Homo sapiens: one gene and its partners. The protein of the gene in region 3 interacts with the protein of the main gene of each other region in a pairwise test. Each region holds a gene or a part of one and is shown on either strand. Other genes may lie near its edges.

Region 1 (4,977 bases), on a different chromosome or scaffold from region 3:
CAAGATCACGCCACTGCACTCCAGCCTGGGCGACAGAACGAGACTGTCTCCAAAAAAAAAAAAAAAAAAAAAAAAAAATTGAGAAGGCCTTCAACCAAATGCAACCTGCAGATCCTGCTTGGCTTCTGAAGAAACAAAGTAACTGTAAAATGAAATTTATGAGCCAAACTGGGGAAATCCAAACACTGACTGGACAACAGATGACACTAAAGAATTTTTGTTAGTTTCTTAGGTGTGAAAGTTCAACAATGGTTAAGTTTTGTAAGAAAAGATTCTATTTTCTATTAGCTGGGCATGGTGGCAGGCGCCTATAGTCCCAGCTACTGCGGGGGGGCGGGGGGGAGCTGAGGCAGGAGAATGGTGTGAACCCAGGAGGCGGAGCTTGCAGTAAGCCGAGATCGCGCCATTGTACTCCAGCCTGGGTGACAGAGTGAGACTCCATCTCAAAAAAAAAAAGAAAAGATTCTATTTTCTTAGCAAAACAACTGATATACTTACAGACACAGCTACACAGGATGAACTGCGGTAGAAACAAGACCGGCCACAGCTGCAAACTGCAGGTGCAGGGCAGGAGCATACATGGACTCACTCTATTACTCTCTCCACCTTTGATTATGTGGAAACATCCAACAAAGAAGGTGGCTTTAAAAAATGAGTAAAGGCTGGGCGCGGTGGCTCACGCCTGTAATCCCAGCACTTTGGGAGGCTGAGGCGAGTGGATCATCTGAGGTCAACAGTTTGAGACCAGTCTGACCAACATGGTGAAACCTCATCTCTACTAAAAATACAAAAATTAGCCGGGCGTGGTGGTGGGCTCCTGTAATCCCAGCTACTCGGGAGGCTGAGGCAGGAGAATTGCTTGAACCTGGAAGGCAGAGTTTGCAGTGAGTCGAGATCGTGCCACTGCACTCCACGCTGGGCAACAGAGCTAGACTCTGTCTCAAATAATAATAATAATAATAATAATAATATGAATAAATAAATAAATAAGTAAATAATGAGTAAAGCAGCCAGGCGCAGTGGCTCACGCCTGTAATCCCAGCACTTTGGGAGGCTGAGGCAGGCAGATCACCCGAGGTCAGGAGTTCGAGACCAGCCTGGCTAACATGGAGAAACCTCGTCTCTACTAAAAATACAAAAATTAGCCAGGTGTGGTGGCGCGCACCTGTAATCCCAGCTACTCAGGAGGCTGAGGCATGAGAATCACTTGAACTCGGGAAGCAGAGGTTACAGTGAGCCAAGATCGAGCTACTGTACTCCAGCCTGGGCAACATAACAAGACTCCGTCTCAAAAAAAAAAAAAAAAAGGCTGGGCGTGGTGGCTCATGCCTGTAATCCCAGCACTTTGGGAGGCCAAGGCAGGCGGATCACCTGAGGTCAGGAGTTCGAGACCAGCCTGACCAACATGGAGAAACCCCATCTCTACTAAAAATACAAAAAAAATTAGCCGGGCATGGTGGCACATGCCTATAATCCCAGCTACTAGGGAGGCTGAGGCAGGAGAATCGCTGGAACCTGGGAGGCGGAGGTTGTGGTGAGCCAAGATCGCGCCATTGCACTCCAGCCTGGGCAACAAAAGCGAAACTCCGTCTCAAAAAAAAAAAAGCAAACTATAGATCAGGCGTGGTAGCTCACATCTCTAATCCCAACACTTTGCAGGCCAAGGCGGGAGGATCGCTCAAGCCCAGGAGTTCAAGAGCAGCCTGGGCAACACAGTGAGACCCTGACTCTACCAAAATAAATAAATAATAATAATAATAAATTAAAAAGTAAAAAGCCAACTATAAAAAGCAAACCATGACAATTATTTCATATAGTAACACAACAGTATAAGTTAGAAGTACCACAGAACCTCTGGATCCACAGAAACCTTCCTGTCTTTATCTACTTGAATTAAACCTGCTTTTATGTATCTCAGAGTAGCAACAAACTAACTTTAACAAAAAACAACTATTACAGATGCACAAAGCCTTTCCCCTGTGTTTGATGGTGTCTTGTACACATCACACACTCACAAGGGAAGAAGAGCTGGCAGAGAGAAACACCCAGTGCTCCCCACATTTGTCCTGCGCCATCTACACAGGTCCTATTGACACTGTTCTCTCCACTTTCTGCTGTTCTTAAAGTGAATGTATGATTTTTTAAAACACAGTAGCTTCTAAAAAAGAAGCTGGGCCCCCAGTGACCTCCTCCTAACCCTAACCCTGGCCTGCAATGCTCTGAGGGTGGCAAGGGGAGCCTGCCTGCCACTCAGTCCCCATCTCTCCATCCACCTCCCACAGCAGAGCAGAGCCCAGCTTGGGACAGCAGGGTTTGAGCCCAAGGAGGCAGCTAGGCAGCCACATTGGGCCCTCTCCTGCTCCAGAGTTCGGCTTCAGAGGCCACACTCTGAACACTGGACAACACAGGGTCTAAGGCCAATGCTTTACCTGTCAAAGCCTGCATAGTCCTGGCCAGCCCTGGCCACCAGCCACCACCACCTCAAACAGCTGGTGTACTGTCTGAGAAGAAACCAAATCTTTCTTACCCCCGATGTGTGTAACAGTTTCATCTGGTCCACCTATGTGGGGAAGCAGGTCTGACTGACTGGGGGATGCCCAAAACTGACAAAGAAGAAACTGATCTCCTCCCTCAAAGGAAGGGACTGTGGTCCCTAAGTGACAGGGGAGACCTAGCAGGAATCCTATATGGACCTGGGCCGGATGCTCAGACACAAGGGCACAGGGACACCACTCCCTGACCTTGGGGGCTCACAGAGCACTGGGCCAAGGTAACAGGCATCATCATTAACCTATCACGGCCCAGACAGGCAGCGGCTCATCCAGGGCCGCAAGCTCCTGGGAGACCAGGCAGGGCCCAGACTCCCCCTGTGGAGTCAGTATGGAGTTCACAGGGACAGACATCATATACAGTCGGTCCTGCTCAGGTGGTGCCAGGCACCCCCAGGGGCCCAGGGGCTCCCAGCACTGGGCCTGGCCTTCCTCTGGATCCACCTGCTAAGCCACAAAGCATGCTCGCTTGGCATCCCCAAAGACGAGCTGCTCCATCACAGCTGTGCCTGCCTTGAATCCCATGGAGGGTGGCCAGGTCCACGCCTCCACATGCTGGCAGGGCTGGCCTGGAGCACACCATCCGCATGCCTAGGGCTGGGCAGATTCCCTGGCCAGGTCCCAGGATGATTGAGATACACAAGTGCCCAGTCGCCAGGCCCTACAGGAAGAAACAGCACCAGGGCTCGATGTGGGAGTTTCAGACATTTTTAAAAGTGTAAGGGTCCCTAAAGATTCCTTCATGACCCCCTGCCCCATATTCTAAAAGTGGGGAAAGAGAGGCCCAGCGGGGAGAGAATTGCCCAACAATTAGTGACAACAGTGTAGCCACATGGTCATCATCTTTGGATGCCTATAGCTGCCTCTCCCCAACTGTCAGACCCATCTGTGCTTCAGGTATTCACAGGGCCCCAGCTCCCACCCAAGCCAGGCTTCCTCATACCAACAGCAGACCACTGCCACCACCCAGCCCCCTGAAAGGCCCTTGGGTCTCCCAGAGCCTCCTTGCTCCCAACAGCCTTCTGTTCAGAAATGGACACAACAATGTTCTCAGGGGTTATCAGACGAATGGGAGAATCCCACACTTGCTTTAACCAAGACCAGGACTTTTCCTGCTCTGGAAGCAAACAATCAAAGAGGCTGGGCCTCACCCCCAGTAACTCTGCAGAGGAACCTCCTGGAGGGTCCTCTGCCAATCACCCTATTGCCCCCACTTCCTGCAGCTGCCCAGGTGCTGGGAACAGGGCTCAGCAAGTCCAGAAGGCAGCAGGCAGGGGAATTTTAGAGACACCCAAGCTTGAAGGGCAGGTGGGACTTCTAAGACAAAGGGTGAATGTGGGCACAGGAGAGGTAGGGCAGTCCCAAGCCAGGCTGTAGGGGCCTGAGACAATGCTTAGGGCAGCCCTTGGGAGGTGGCAATGGAAGCCACTTGAGACTGAGCAGGGACAAGGATAAGAACGGGGAGAAGCTGCAGGTGCAGCAGCAAGGAGACAGAGACCTGAGTGAGGCATGAGATTCAGTCCGCAGAAGACCTACGAAGCACTTGCTGCGTGTTGGGTGCTGTGCCCAGTCCAACACCCAATTCCACCCACGTGCACCTCTCAGACAAGGACAATGGTGCTCCAGAGCTTGACACTATGACACCAAGGTGGCACACCAAGGCAGTGAGGGTGTCCAGACCTCCTCTCTGAGCCTGAGCTCAGGTGGAGTCAAGACTGTTCTCAGACCTCCCCCATTACCCTCCCCTGACCATGAGGACCACATGGGCACCTAGCCTTAGCCCACCTAGCTACAGTCCCTGCCTGTGCCCTGAAGGCAGGAGCTGCCACCTCAGCACACCTGTCCTCTTAAAGCTACAGCTAAGAACACAGAACAAAGTGTCTCACGGCCACGCAGGACCAGGAACACCAGGTTGCTGACCAAAGCCCATCTAATTCTCTTCCCCACCATTCCAGGGAGAGGAAGGGAAAGGGCACAGTGGGAACGGGGACAGATATGGTCTTAACTGAGTCAGGCTCAAGAAATCACTAGCAGAATGATTAGGCAAAATCAACCAGGGGGCACCCACCTCACTTGTGGTCTCAGCCAGCACCGTGCTATGTTGTCAGCAGGACACAGACACTTCCCCCATCCCATGAGAAAGGCAACAGGACTGGCACTGTCTCCCATTCATCACCACAAGACCCTCCTCAGCTCTGATCAGAAACCCACACACTGGGACCAGCAGGCCAGCGTCCTTCCCTCAACGATCCTATTATCTACAAATGCAGGGCAGAAGTACAAGCAACTCCATTTGGAGCACAATTTATTAGTAACTAAATGCACTTTAGTTCAAGAAATAAAGTTTTCTAAAGAATTAAGGCGGTACACCGCTCTACAGGAGAAAAAAAACCCCACAATTATTGACTCCTTAAATCTTGTGGTTTTT
Region 2 (4,977 bases), on a different chromosome or scaffold from region 3:
AAACTTTGTGTTTTATTAATTTGGCATTACAAAGAATAGTTTTTATCATGTGTTCATAATCCAACTGTAAGACTTAAAAGTTTGGCCGGACGCGGTAGCTCATGCCTGTAATCCCAGCACTTCCAGCGGCCGAGGCTGGCGGACAGTGAGGTCAAGAGATCGAGACCATCCTGGCTAACATGGTGAAACCCCGTCTCTACTAAAAATACCAAAAAAAAAAATTAGCCAGGCATGGTGGCGGGCGCCTGTAGTCCCAGCTACTCGGGAGGCTGAGGCAGGAGAATGGCATGAACCCGGGAGGTGTAGCTTGCAGTGAGCCGAGATGGCACCACTGCACTCCAGCTGGGCGACAGAGCGAGACTCCATCTCAAAAAAAAAAAACTTAAAAGTTTAACGTACTTACATTACCTTCTTTCAAATGCTAATTAAGCTCCCTGAAAAGCTTATGTTCACTCACAATAAAGGAAAAGAATCATTATCATAATGCTATTTTCACAACAACTGGTAAAATTATATTATTATAATCTTTAATTAACTCAATTATTTAATGGCACACATGTACTCTCTAAGACAGAAGCCTCAAAGGAAAATAGTAATTGTGAGAACAAAGAGGCCCATTTTACCTTAGTTCTTCAATTTGTGAAATCCATTTAAGGTAAGCAAGATGACGTTCGATCTCTTCAATCTGGCTAATCATGGTTCCAAGATCGTCCATCCAAGGTTGCGCAGTCAGCAAATGGCTGTTAATGGCGCTGAAGAGATGAGTTTCCTGCTCCAGAAACTGATTAAGAAATTGCTTTGATTCTTCTGCATTTTTTAAGGCACTTCGAATTCTTTTAGGAATTTCTGATGAAATTGTAAGTACCTGACCATAATTTTAAAAAAGAAAGAAAGAAAGAACAGCAGCAATCAGATAAAATTTTCATAATTTTTTTTTTGAGAGGGGATCTCACGCTGTTGCCCAGGCTGGAGTGCAGTGGTACCATCATAGCTCACTGCAGCCTGGACTTCCTGGGCTCAACCAATCCTCCCACCTCAACCTCCCCAGTAGTTGGGACTACACATATGCACCACTACACCTGGCTTTTCTTTTTTTTTTTTCTTTAAATAGAAATAAGGTCTCACTATGTTGCCCAGGCTGTATGTAACCTTTTTTATTAGTTCGTTCCCTTCAAAATACACATTTTTTGTAACAGAACTGAAAATCATCCATCAAAACCTTCAAAAAAAGGTTTGATTTCTTCATCCTGTACTAATCAATCCAAACATAACATGCTGTTTTATATACACACAAATAGCAGGAAGAAGTATGCCTTTGTGTTGAAAACAATAAGTGAAACAAAAAAATAAAAATAAAATAAAAAATATATGCATACATACATATACACATACATGTAGAGAAAGGGACTTAACTCACTGGCTCCAGTAAGCATCTAGAGGTCTGCCTCCATAGGCTCAGCAGAGGATCCAGCTAGAGAAAACTTATTTTATTTTTTTGAGACAGAGTTTCGTTCTGTCACCCAGGCTGGAGTGCAGTGGCGTGATCTCAGCTCACTGCAACCTCCACCTCCCGGGGTCAAGTGATTCTCCTGCCTCAGCCTCCTAAATAGCAGGAATTATAGACACGTGCCATCACGCTCGGCTAATTTTTGTATTTTTAGTAGAGACGGGGTTTCACCACGTTGGTCAGGCTGATCTCGAACTCCTGACCTCATGATCCGCCCACCCCAGCCTCCCAGAGTGCTGGGATTACAGGCATAAGCCACCGTGCCAGGCCGAGAAAACTTATTAATACATGCTCTACCTGCTAAATATTTTCCTTCAAAGCAAAGGAAGGGCCGGGCACGGTGGCTCACACCTGTAATCCCAGCAGTTTGGGAGGCCAAGACAGGCGGATCATTTGAGGTCAGGAGTTCAAGACCAGCCTGGCCAACATGATGAAACCCCATCTCTACTAAAAATACAAAAACTAGCCAGGTTTGGTGGCACACACCTTGTAATCCCAGCTCTAGAGAGGCCAAGGCAAGAATCACTTGAACCGGGAGGAGGTTGCAGTGAGCTGAGACTGCACCACCGCACTCCATCCAGCCTGGGTGACAGAGCAAGACTCCTCAAAGAAGAAAAAAAAAAATGCAAGCTGGGTGCGGTGACTCACACCTGTAATCCCAGCACTTTGGGAGGCCAAGGTGGGTGGATCACAAGGTCAGGAGTTCAAGACCAGCCTGGCCAAGATGGCAAAATCTTGTCTCTACTAAAAAATACAAAAAAATTAGCTGAGCATGGTGGCACATACCTGTAATCCCAGCACTTTGGGAGGCTGAGGCAGAGAATTTCTTAAACCCGGGAGGCAGAGGTTGCAGTGGGCCGAGACTGCGCCACTGCCATCTAGCCTGGGTGACAGAGCGAGACTCCATATCAAAAAAAAAAAAAAAAAGGAAACAAAGATCTCATTCTAACAGGCTGAGCATCTATATTTTGCCAACATACCCCAGGTGATTCTGAATTAAGGCCAGGCTAAGAAGCACTGACTTGATGAGATGATATCCAGGCAATGCCTTTAGAAAGGGCATTTAGTGGCCAGGTGCAGTGGCTCACACCTGTAATCCCAGCACTTTGGGAGGCCAAGGAGGGCAGGTCACTGGAGGTCAGGAGTTCGAGACCAGCCTAGCCAACATGGTGAAACCCTGTCTCTACTAAAAATACAAAAATTCAGCCGGGCACAGTGTCTCATGCCTGTAATCCTAGCACTTTGGGAGGCAGAAGCTGGTGGATCACTTGAGGTAAGGAGTTTGAGACCACACTTGCCAACATGGTGAAACCCCGTCTCTAATAAAAATACAAAAACTAGCCGGGTGTGGTAGTATGAGCCTGTAATCCCAGCTACTCAAGAGGCTGAGGCAGGAGAATTGGTGAAACCAGGAGGCGGAGGTTACAGTGAGCTGAGATCGCTCCACTGCACTCCAGCCTGGGCGACAGAGTGAGACTCTGTCTCAAAAAATAAAATAAAATAAATACAAATACAAAAATGAGCTGAGGATGGTGGCGCATGCCTGTAATCCCAGCTATTCAGGAGGCTGAGGCAGGAGAATCACTTGAAACCCGGAAGGCAGAGGTAGCAGTGAGCTGAGATCACACCACCACACTCCAGCCTGGGCGACAGAGGAAGACTCCATCTCAAAAAAAAAAAAAAAAAGAAAATGGCATTTATTAAGTGAATTTTTCTTATAGTATGTGGGAAAACATATACAAATATTAGTCATCAGCAAAATACAAAGAACATTATAGAATAATTTCAATCAACAGTGATTAGATACTTATTCTGTACCAGGCACTGCGCTAGAAATATGCAGATAAACAAGACACAGCATCCGTCCTTCAGGTCACTTTGGTATATAAGAGTGTTGTAAGCAAATAATTTCAACAGTGGGATTAATGCAATAAAATAGACAGGCTATATTTAATGAATGGGCACATTAATCACCTAAAGATCTTGTTGTAATACAGATTCTGATACAGTAAGTCTGAAGTAAGACTGAGATTCTGCATTTCTACAAAGCTCCCAATCTGCCTAAACTAACATGGTATCAGCAAGAGTGGGAAAGATGGGCCGGGAGCAGTGACTCACGCCTGTAATCCCAGCACTTTGGAAGGCCAAGATCCACTTTCGGGCAGATCACCTGAGGTTGGGAGTTTGAGACCAACCTGACCAACATGGAGAAACCCCATCTCTACCAAAAATACAAAATTAGCCGAGCGTGGTGGCACATGCCTATAATCCCAGCTACTTGGGAGCCTGAGGCGGGAGAATCACTCGAACCCAGGAGGTGGAGGTTGCAGTGAGCCAAGATTGTGCCATTGCACTCCAGCCTGGGCAACAAGAGTGAAACTCCAACTCAAAAAAAAAAAAAAAAAAAAAAGAGTGGGAAAGATGGGATGGATACCAGAGATGTTGAGGCTGAACTCAGATGACTTGGTGATGGGATAGAGGATGAGAGGATGATAAGAAGGAATCTAGGACTCCTAGGCTTCAGGTCTGGGTGACAGGCAAATAGTGGTGCCATTATCTAACCAAGACAGACAAGCCTCTAAAAAATGGATCAGTATAGTTTTGGACATGCTGAATTTAAGGTTCAATAAGGAACTTCAGTAAAAGTTTCTGTGGTCATTAGGGAAACAAACCTGATTACAGTGGGTAAAAGATGAATGACAAAAAGTAGAGATAGATAACAAAGGTTACTTTCTGAAGCCTGACAATCAAAGGAAAGAACTAATACCTGCTAAAAGATCATGGGTTTTTTTGTTTCTTTGTTAAGGTTTTATGGAAAAGACCTGTCTATGTGCACATGCTGAAGGGATAGGACTGGTTGACGAACACAGGGTAAAATTATAAGAGTGACACAAGTTTACTGAGGTGGCAGAGAGAACCTGGGGTATAAGGTCTGCCTTCGACTGATCCTTTGCTGAATGAAGAGGTTAAAAATGACTGCACATAAATTTGTCGATTGTGGGATAGACTATTCAACAGACTGAATTCAATGCTACTAAATTCATGCTAGGCTTCTATTTTTTTCTGCTAGGGAAAAGGAAAGGGCAGAATGGACAGGTTGGGTAGATGTCTCAAACAGAATCTGAAAGAACAGTTGAGGGGAGTAGCAGAGGAGCTGACGTTCCCATGGAAGGACTGCTGGTGGGGCTGAAGACTCAGCCAGGGTGGCAGACCACACACATAGATTGGCATCAATCTACTCAGCTGCATGACTTCCTCCAACTGGGCCCACAACAACCTGCCTGCAGGAGTGAAAAGGCAGACAAAGCCAGGCTAAACTTGAAGACTAGCAGTAGTTGTGGTGGGAAGACAGGAAGGTGTGGAGGCCTAAGGTAATGGGGACAGGAGAATATACGATGACCAAAAACCTGGAAATAACCCACACAGAATTTACTTAACCTAATTTAGTAGCTATATGATAAAAATGTTTT
Region 3 (4,977 bases):
CATAGTCATAGGTAACCACACCTGTCTCTCAATAATTGAGAAAGCAAGTAGATAAAAAGTTAGCAAGGCCAAAGAAGATCTGAACAACACTATCATCACTGACATTTGTAGAACTGTACCATGAAAGCAAAACAATACTCTTTTCAAGAGCCCATGGAATAAACCATATGCTAAGCCATAAAACAAGATCAGAGCCTTAAATGTAAAGCAAAAACTATAATATTAAGCTTCTAGAAGAAAATTAAGAATATATATTTGAAATCTTGGGATAGGCAAAGATTTCTTAAGCAGGACACAAAAAGCAATGACCATAAAAGGAAAAAACAATAAATTGGACTTCATTAAAATATAAAACTTCTGGCCCGGGCACTTCGGGAGGCCAAGGCGGGAGGATCCCTTGAGTAGAGGAGTTCAAGATCAGCCTGGGCAACATGAGGAGGCCTCATCTCTACAAAAATTAAAAAATCAGCCAGGCATGGTGGCACACACCTGTGGTCTCAGCTACTTGGAAGGCTGAGGTGGGAGATCGCTTAAGCCCAGGAGCTAGAGGTTGCAGTTAGCCATGATCATGCTGAACTCCAGCCTGGGTGAGAGTGAGACCCTGTCTCAAAAAGCGTGTGTGTACACACACACAAACTTCTGTTCAGCAAAAGATTCAATTAAGAGAACAGGTAAGCCCTAAACTACAAGAAAATAGTCACAAAAAATATTCGTATATCTGACAAAGAACTTCTATCCAGAATATACAAAGAATTCCTATAATCCATTTACAAAAAGACAAGTTTATTTTTAAAATGAACAAAAAGCGCCTGTAATCCCAGCTACTTGAGAGGCTGAGGTGGGAGGACTGCTTAAGCCCAGGAGGTTGCAGCTGCCATGAGCCATGATTATGCCACCGCATTCCAGCGTAGGTGACGGAGTGAGACTCTGTGTCAAAAAAATAAATAAATAAGGAAAGAAAGACTTTAACAGACACTACACAAATGAACACAACTTTATGAAAAGATGCTCCTCATCTTTAGTCATCAGGTAATGTGATTAAAGCCGCAAAGAGCTACTACCAGACACAAAAGAGAATGGTTAAAATTAAAAAGACTAACAATACCACATGCTGGGGTTTGGAAATGACTGGCATTTCTTATGAAGTTAAGCATACATCTACTCTTATTATCCAGCAATTCTACTTCTAGGTATCTCCCCAAGAGACCTATTTATTTACCCAAGAAAAATAACATAGTTCCAAAAAAAGATCTGCATAAGAATGGTCATAGCAGTTTTATCCCTGTTTTTTTTTTTTTTTTTTTTTTTTTGAGAAGGAGTCTCACTCTGTCGCCAGGCTGGAGTGCAGTGGCACAATCTCAGCTCACTGCAACCTCCACCTCCCGGATTCAAGTGATTCTCTTGCCTCAGCCTCCCAAGTAGCTGGGAATACAGGCACACGCCACTACGCCCAGCTAATTTTTGTATTTTTAGTAGAGACGGGGTTTCACCATGTTGGCCAGGATGGTCTCGATCTCTTCACCTTGTGATCCACCTGCCTCAGCCTCCCAAAGTGCTGGGATTACAGGCTTGTGCCACCACGCCCAGCCAGCAGTTTTATTCCTAATAGCCCAAAGCTGGAAACAAATTTTGATATATTCATACAACTGAGTATCACTGGAAAATGAAAAGGAAACCAGTGGTATCTGCAATAACATGGATGAACCTAAAAACTGATATGCTGAGCGAAAGAAGCCAGACACACAATCTATGAGTCCATCTGTATGAAATACAAGAACAAGCAAAATTAATCCATGATGACAAAATTCAAATGGTGGCTGCCCAGGAAGGGATGAGGAGAAATATGAGGATAGGCTGAGAAGGGGTACTGGGGAAATTTCCTTTTTCTCTTTTTTTTCAACTTTTAAGTTCAGGGATACAGCTGCAGGATGACAGGTTTGTTACATAGGGAAACGTGTGTCGTGGTGGTTTACTTCACAGATCATCCCATCACCCAGCTATTGAGCCCAGCATCCATTCGCTATTCTTCCTGATGCTCTCAGGGAAATTTCTTTGGTGACGAAAATGTTCTATTTCTTTATAAGGGCAATGGTTATATGCTTGTATGTATTTGTCAAAATGCATTAAATGTTATACTTAAGATATGAGCTTTTCAAAAAATTAATGAAAACTTCCATTCAGCAGCAATAATCTGCTCACTTTACTTTTCCATTGTTGCCTACAATAATGCAATTAGTCAAACTCTATTCTAGTGAATGCAGTACAGTGGTATTTTTCTAGCTTTGTTCTGTCCTCTTACCTTGTTAACTTCTGGTGTGAGGATCTCTATTTTCCTTAAACGTTGAAAAGCATCATAATCAGTCTCTCCAAATAGTCTGATTGGTTCTCCTCTTTCTCTCAATCTTCTGATGACCTACAAAGTGAAACAGATACCCAGTAAATTTTTTTTTTTTTTTTTTTTTTTGAGACAGTCTCACTCTGTTGCCCAGGCTGGAGTGCAGTGGTGCGATCTCGGCTCACTGCAAGCTCCGCCTCCCAGGTTCAAGCGATTCTCCTGCCTCAGCCTCCCGAGTAGCTGGGACTACAGGCGCCCGCCACCACACCCAGCTAACTTTTGTATTTTTAGTAGAGATGGGGTTTCACCATGTTGGCCAGGATGGTCTCAGTCTCCTGCCCTTGTGATCCGCCTGCCTCGGGCTCCCAAAGTGCTGGGATTACAGGCGTGAGCTAATGTGCCCAGCTATTAAACTTTTGAGAGAGGAAAAAACTAAACATCTCAAAAACAATTTGTATATTGTACCTTAAAAGCCAAGCCTGGGTTTAATAAAAGCTAATTATCCAAATACATGCCTCTGTGTAAAGTATAAAATCCTTCAAATATTTTAGATCATTTCAATTAAGCTAAACAAAGATGTTTCCAAATCAAAGAGAAAATCAAGTACTTTAAAAATCTATTTTGACTCAAAAGTCACTGTTATTAATTTTATCACTGAACAGCTCCTAGAAAGTGGTCTGACCTATGACTCTACAATTCAAGTCTAAAGAAAGACCCTAATATAAACCACCTCTTTTACTGTGAGATTTTTAAAAAATTCTTTTTTGTAAGAAAAGGGGCATGTCTGTGGCCCTCATTTTACATAATTATAACTGTTCTTAGTCTTCTTTTAAAAACAATGGAAAGACAATAGTAATCCCTTATGTCAGCATATTTTTGGTGATCAAACACTTGTTTTGAAATGTAGATGAAAAAAGTAATCTGTTTATTCTTTTAATTTTCCATAAACAGATATACTGTGTTACCATCACACCTTAAGTAACCATAAAGTTTAGGTCGTTTAGCTCACTGCTTCGATAGGACCAATCTGTGTGGCAGGACACACAGGAAAAACACTAAGATGGGAGGGAATGACAGCATTTATAGAGAGAAGGAAAATCAAATCTGAAGCCAGCTGATAATTACCATAATGGACAGTCTGCATTGTAATACCACCATGAAACCAAAAACTTCTCCCTCAGAAAACAGGGAGTTATAATCTGCATATGCAGAGCTTTTAAGATGCTGAAAATCTATTTCCAAACTTGGGTGATGGTTACATGAATATTTATTTTATAATTATTCATATATGTGTAACAAACATATATTGCCCTAACATGGTTCATACACTTTATATACATGCTATGTATGTCATTTTAAAAAGGAAGAAAGAAACAGAAAACGTAATAAATACTAGTCCAAATTTTTTAAATAAAGCAATAATGAGAAACACCAAGAGCTTTACCTGGGAGCATAAATAGCATCACACCTAAAATCCATTGAGAGGGCTCCCAGTGGATTAACAGAAGTTTGAGATTAAAACAGAAATTTAAGAGGTCATCTAGTGCTATCTCCAATCAATGCAGAAATGACCTCACAAACACCCTTGTCAGATCCCTGGCTGACAAATGGCAGGAATCACATTTCTTCGTGAAACATCCCATCCCATTGTTTAGACAGAGATGTTTTGCTTCTCAAAACTGAAATCTACTTCCCCCAAACTTCTACCCATTTATCCCAGTTCCACTTTATGAAACTACAGAGAATATTCTGATTTTCCAAAATCAGAGCTACTTTCATTGGATTTTTAAAGATATCTCTAGTAATTCTTCTCTCCAGCCTCACTATTCTAAATTCCTTCACCTCATCTTCATATGATGGTTTCTAGAGTCAGTCACCATTCCCCTGAAAATTTCCTTTTATGCAATGTCCGTCATAAACATGTGGTAATGTAGAACTAAATAATAATACTACAAACATGTCAACTTGCGAGAAGTACAGAATACATAAGCCTTTGATCTAGACGCTTTATTTCTATGACTTACATTCAGTCCTATCCACAACTACAGAGGTCGAACAGGAAGAGACTACTGAGGACTCAAAGATGAAAGATGACCCTAAGTCAGTCAGTCAAAGACAAAAACAACCTCGACAGAAAAAAGAAAGGGAATGTGAGCTAGTTATTACTGTAAAACACTGCTTAAGATTGGGTGCTATAACTTAGGCCAAGTTGTGAGGAGTGCATAATATTTTTCTGGTTATCAGTTTAAATAGCTAACTCTCATCTACCTGGAATTATATAACAGTGGTTCTGTCTAAAGGCAAGGTAATAAACTACCTGACTTCGAAATTTCTTTTAGTGCAAGAATTCTATTATTCTAATTTTTTAAATAAAGAAGCTGAAATATACCACCACCACCACCACCACCACCACCTCCCCCAAAAAATGACACAGAGACTAAAGGGACATCAGTGAAAGAACTTAAGCCTCTGAGTCCTCTTTTACTATTTCAATAGACGCTCGCTGAGCAAAGGCAGGAACTTCTTCCCCATATCATGTCTACTACTTAACTGATGTACCACTATTAATCAGTAACAATGGTTTACTAATGATGGATCTCACAAAAAGAACAACTTCTTAAAACTACGTCGTCTTTTAACTC
Region 4 (4,977 bases), on a different chromosome or scaffold from region 3:
AATAAGAAATCTGCTAGTTGATAGAGGCTATCTTTGGGTACTACAGACTGATTTGTCTCATTAAGTAGCTTTACCTTTCTGCCATTCGTAATTTTTCTAAAGACTACCATTTTCTAAGTTTACTATAATGAGCATTTATTTTTTGGTGGAAAAATATTTAAAAGATGACTTCACACAGTAACGCAGATTTTTCTAAAATATTAAGGTCTCCTGTCATATTCCTATTACAGGTTGAGCATCCCTAATCTGAAAATCCGAAATCCAAAATGCTCCAAAATCCAAAACTTTCTTAGCAACAAGACACTCTAAGGAAATGCTCACAAGAGCACTTCAGATTTCAGATTTCCAGATAAGGGATGCTCAACCCATACATTATCTGCAAGTATTCCAAAATCCGAAATCCAAAACACTTCCAGTCCCAAGCATTTAGGATACTCAATCTGTATGTTTTTCTTTATATTATTGCTTTTGTTATTTATATTACTGCTGAATACTGATGGCAATTGTTTTAGAATTGTAATAAGTACTAAAAAAAAGTGTCCATAATTAATAAGAACAGTATTGCTTCTTTCGATAATACAAGCCTTATTATGTACAAGCTATCTAAGAATGATATGAGAAAACAAGCAAAAACTAATTTTACACAGTCAGGTAAGAAAAAGAAAATGTTAACAGTGCCATATTTCAATAAATCTATGTATGGCAAATTAGATTCCATTTAATGAAGTAAAAATTAAAATGTGAGAATTATCTTAAAAGTTTCATGTTACTGAACGGAATACTTCAGTATCTTTTTTTTTTTTTTTTTTGAGACAGGGTCTCATTCTGTCGCCCAGGCTGGGGTACAGTGGCACAATCATGGCTCACTGCAGCCTTGACCACCTGGGCTCAATCAATCCTCCTGCCTCAGTCTCCTGAGCAGCTGGGACTACACTTGCATACCACCATCTCCAGCTAGTTTTTTGTATTTTTTGTAGAGATGGGGTTTTGCCATGTTGCCCATACAGGTGTGAGCCACCATGCCCGGGCAATAATATCTTCAATAACGAAAAGCTAATAAATTATATGTGATCTTCCCTACATTCTTTCTGTGACATATAGTATAAAACCAATCACAGCTACCCTTCTGGAGACATCTGGAATTTGTAACAACAATCCGTCTTCAGAAGCTGGACTAAAACACGTAAGCTGGGGAGTTGTAGGGTAGATACTATTCTACCTCTCGTGAAACAGGCAAAGGAATCAGGTCAAATGAATTATGAAGCAAACAAAGAAGCAAAGATGGAAGATGGAGATCCTCAGCTGCTCATAAGATAGTGCTGAATCTTGGGAAGTTCTAATTTTTCTGAAGTCTGCTATTTTCTCAGTTTACTAGTCAAAACTGTATGAATAATATGATTACAACTGTAATAGAAAATAGTGCATAAAATAAGAAATCTGCTAGTTGATAGTGGCTTTTTTTATAATTAATTTCCCCGTTCTGCTTAGACTAGTTTAAGTTAGTTTCTTTTACTTGCAATCACGAAGTCTATCAAATATACAAAGCCTGCGTAGAAAAATAAAATAGTAAAGTCCTAGAGAAAAAAATGTAAACAAAAGTCACAAAACTGAAACAGGAACTTTCGAAAAAGAATTAAGTAGTCAACAGTATCATATGCTACAAAAATGTAAAATAAGAAAACAGAGACTTAATAATATGAAGGTAACAAGGGCATTTCAATAATTGTGAGGCAGAAAGCCAGACTGCCATGAGTTCAAAAATGAACGAGAAAATAGGTTATGCAGATTTTAACATTTATCTAATATTAAAATTTTCACGCATATCATCCAAATAAAGTTTAATGTAACAGGCTCTAACAATCAAAATATATCATATATTTTCACAGACAATAGCTATATCTTAATGAATAATCTTAACACAAAATCCCTAGCTGCTCTGAATTTTTCTTTCTTAAGTCCACCCAACCCCTACAGACTTTTCCTTTTTTTTTTTTTTTTTTGAGACAGGGTCTGGCTTAGTCGCCCAGGCTAGAGTGCGGTGGTGGGATCTTGGCACACTGCAGCCTCTGCCTCCCAGGCTCAAGCAAGCCTCCCACCTCAGCCTCCCAAGTAGCCGGGATGATAGGCATGCACCACCAATCCCACCTAATTTTTGTATTTTTAGTAGAGACAGGGTTTCACCATGTTGCCCAGGCTGGTCTCGACCTCCTGAGCTCAAGTGATCTGCCCGCCTTGGCCTCCCAAAGTGCTGAGATTACAGGCATGCGCCACCACACCCAGCTGAGACCTATTTTTATTAAAATATTAACTCTTAAGTTGTACCTACTGCTGATGTCTTCTAATCCTCACAAAGTCACAGAATATTCTAATAGCTAGTATCAAACTGTAATAAATTCTAAAGATGCTTACTCACCTTGTAATCCTATGGAGGAGAAAAATTGTCCTTTTACTTTCAACAGTTATATCCCGACTAAGTTTCACAAGTCTCTCATATTTGTCATGCCTTGCATCAAGTTCCTGCTGAAATGCTAAAAACACATTATGATCATAAGCATGTATATTCTATACTCAAAGCCTACCAAACAATATTTTTAAGATGTACGTCACATATGCTGGGTGCGGTGGCTCACGCCTGTAATCTCAGCACTTTGGGAGGCCACGGTAGGTGGATCATGAGGTCAAGAGATCAAGACCATCCTGGCCTAGACGGTGAAACCCCGTCTCTACTAAAAATAAAACAATTAGCTGGGCATGGTGGCATGTGCCTGTAGTCCCAGCTACTCGGGAGGCTGAGGCAGAAGAATCGCTTGAACCCCGGAGGCAGAGGTTGCAGTGAGTCGAGATCAAGTCACTGCACTCCAGCCTGGTGACAGAGCGAGACTCCGTCTCAAAAAAAAGAAAAAAAAAAAAAGATGTCACAATGTAAATGCAGACAATGACTGCAGTCACCTGACTTCATTCAGAAGTAGAACACGATGGTAATGACACTAATTCTCAAAACACAAAAAGGTGATTATAAACAATCTCTAGCATCTACTGACTCTAGTGTTAATTGTCAAATATCCTAGGTATACATCACTAACAGCGCTAAAGTAGCTCAAGAGGTCCAGTTAATGTTCCCAGATTTCTAAACCTTTAAAACTAAATATCTAATAATTTCTGTAAATGCCAACAACGCACAGCAGCTCACAAATTCCTGAATCCTTGAAGATTTTCTAAAAATCTGTCAATTGTAGTAAGGTAGCACGTGTATATTAAAATGAACATGAAACAACTTCTTAAAAGTGAGTGCCACAGTATGTGTATTGTATCTTAATTTTTTAAAAAGCTACCAAATTATATCACATTTAAATACTAAGTAAAAATCTAGTTAGCCCGTTTATTTTAGAAAGTACATAATCTCAAATTTACTGTTTTACCATGTAGTAATATTGCATACATAAGCATAATATACTTCAGAAATATTATTTTCAGAAAGATTAGTAAAGAAGAAAAAAGGAAAAATGACTGAAAATAGACAATCACTACATGAGTTAGTTTTGTTATAACTAGAGAACTAGATCATAAAGTAGTTCTGCAATCAATAGAAAGCTGTGGCAGAGTTCATCTGAAAATGATCAGTAAGAAACATCAAAATTTAATTAGGCTGGAAAAAAGTCAGCTGAAAATTGAGTTAGTCAGGATGTTAGAAATCTAGGAAGAGAACTGAAAGTAGGAGAAAATGAAGAAGAGTTCCTGAGATCGATGAAAGGCTGAACGCAGGCTGTGGTGTCCAATTCTTACATACTATCTTCGAAGACTCAACACTTCCACATAGAATTAATCTTCAACCTGTCAAATTGTTACGGACACAAATCTCCCATAACATAATATTACATTAAGAAAAGATTTCCTCCCCACTTTCATACATCCTTTTCCTTACAGAACAAAGCATTTTCACAATTCTAACATGTCTTGCCTTCAGGAAAATTTTCATACATTTGTCTCCTTAAATGTCAGCACTTTGATTCCTTATAGTTACTGTTTTCTCCTTACCTGTATTCGATCAGCACTTAATGCTGAATGGAATACTTTTGTTTCTATCTATTACATATAACTGCCAATCTGCTTACCTTTTATGCTAACTTAAGTTTCATCTACTCTGCTTAATTTGTTTTAGTCTCGAATATTGAGACTCAAAGAATTTTACCTTGGTAAACTTTTTACGGAAAGCCTAACTTGAGACTGCCAAACAAAAACAGTGTTTTAAGTTTTTTTAAAGAACAAGCTTTCATTATACCACTATCAGATGTTTCAGCCTCAAAATTTTTTCCTTACTAAAATTCTTAACAGTTAACAAAATAATTACTTTGTATTATTGTTTAAAAGACTACATCTAAAGTTTTGTGAATATACTTAGAGCAAAAGGTATTAAATAAATTTAACTGAAGAAAGACTGTTTACCTTTTCCAGAACACAAAGCTATACTTACAGAACGTTGTATATACCTAACATTTAATAAAACAGTACAACAACTGGGAGTCTACATAAAGATTACATTACCTATGGGAAAAATAACCCGCAGAATCTAGAATCTTTTCATAGTAAATTCATGCCTCTAACACATTAAACTGCCTCATGTCCTGCCCTTAGCTCATGAGCCAGGCAGACTATGTCTTCTTGCTAGTCCTGATTCTCTAAGCTTGTACCTTTCTTGATGCCTCTATTTTTGCTACTGCCTCTCATCATCTCACATTTCACTTTCATCATTCAGATATCATTCTGCTCAAGGACTGCTTAAGAATCACGTGCCTCCCTCCTCCCTTACTCTCCATTCCTTACCACGCTTCACTGATTTACATTTATCCTTCGCTAGCTAAAATTATATTATTTATTTGTAAATGCACTTGTTTCACCACTGTATCAGAGCATAGATCCATGTCTAGCAGCAGGTGTTCACAAAACATTTCCTGACTGAACTGCTTGTTGAAATCATAA

Evidence for each region.
Region 1: the proteins of PRPF18 (region 3) and BICD2 interact in binary tests that used the Homo sapiens proteins (3 or more experiments, as listed by UniProt).
Region 2: the proteins of PRPF18 (region 3) and RINT1 interact in binary tests that used the Homo sapiens proteins (3 or more experiments, as listed by UniProt).
Region 4: the proteins of PRPF18 (region 3) and TSNAX interact in a two-hybrid assay, tested with the Homo sapiens proteins (one large-scale study listed by BioGRID and IntAct).

What each region holds. Positions count from the first base shown.
Region 1 is NC_000009.12:92,757,262-92,762,238, forward strand, and holds part of BICD2 (protein bicaudal D homolog 2), read right to left. Parts: intron 1-4,977. UniProt on the Homo sapiens protein: Acts as an adapter protein linking the dynein motor complex to various cargos and converts dynein from a non-processive to a highly processive motor in the presence of dynactin.
Region 2 is NC_000007.14:105,538,296-105,543,272, reverse strand, and holds part of RINT1 (RAD50-interacting protein 1), read right to left. Parts: intron 1,547-4,977; exon of another isoform or gene 1,418-1,546; intron 866-1,417; coding exon 624-865; intron 1-623. UniProt on the Homo sapiens protein: Involved in regulation of membrane traffic between the Golgi and the endoplasmic reticulum (ER); the function is proposed to depend on its association in the NRZ complex which is believed to play a role in SNARE assembly at the ER.
Region 3 is NC_000010.11:13,603,067-13,608,043, reverse strand, and holds part of PRPF18 (pre-mRNA-splicing factor 18), read right to left. Parts: intron 2,414-4,977; coding exon 2,300-2,413; intron 1-2,299.
Region 4 is NC_000001.11:231,534,764-231,539,740, reverse strand, and holds part of TSNAX (translin-associated protein X), read right to left. Parts: intron 2,529-4,977; coding exon 2,414-2,528; intron 1-2,413.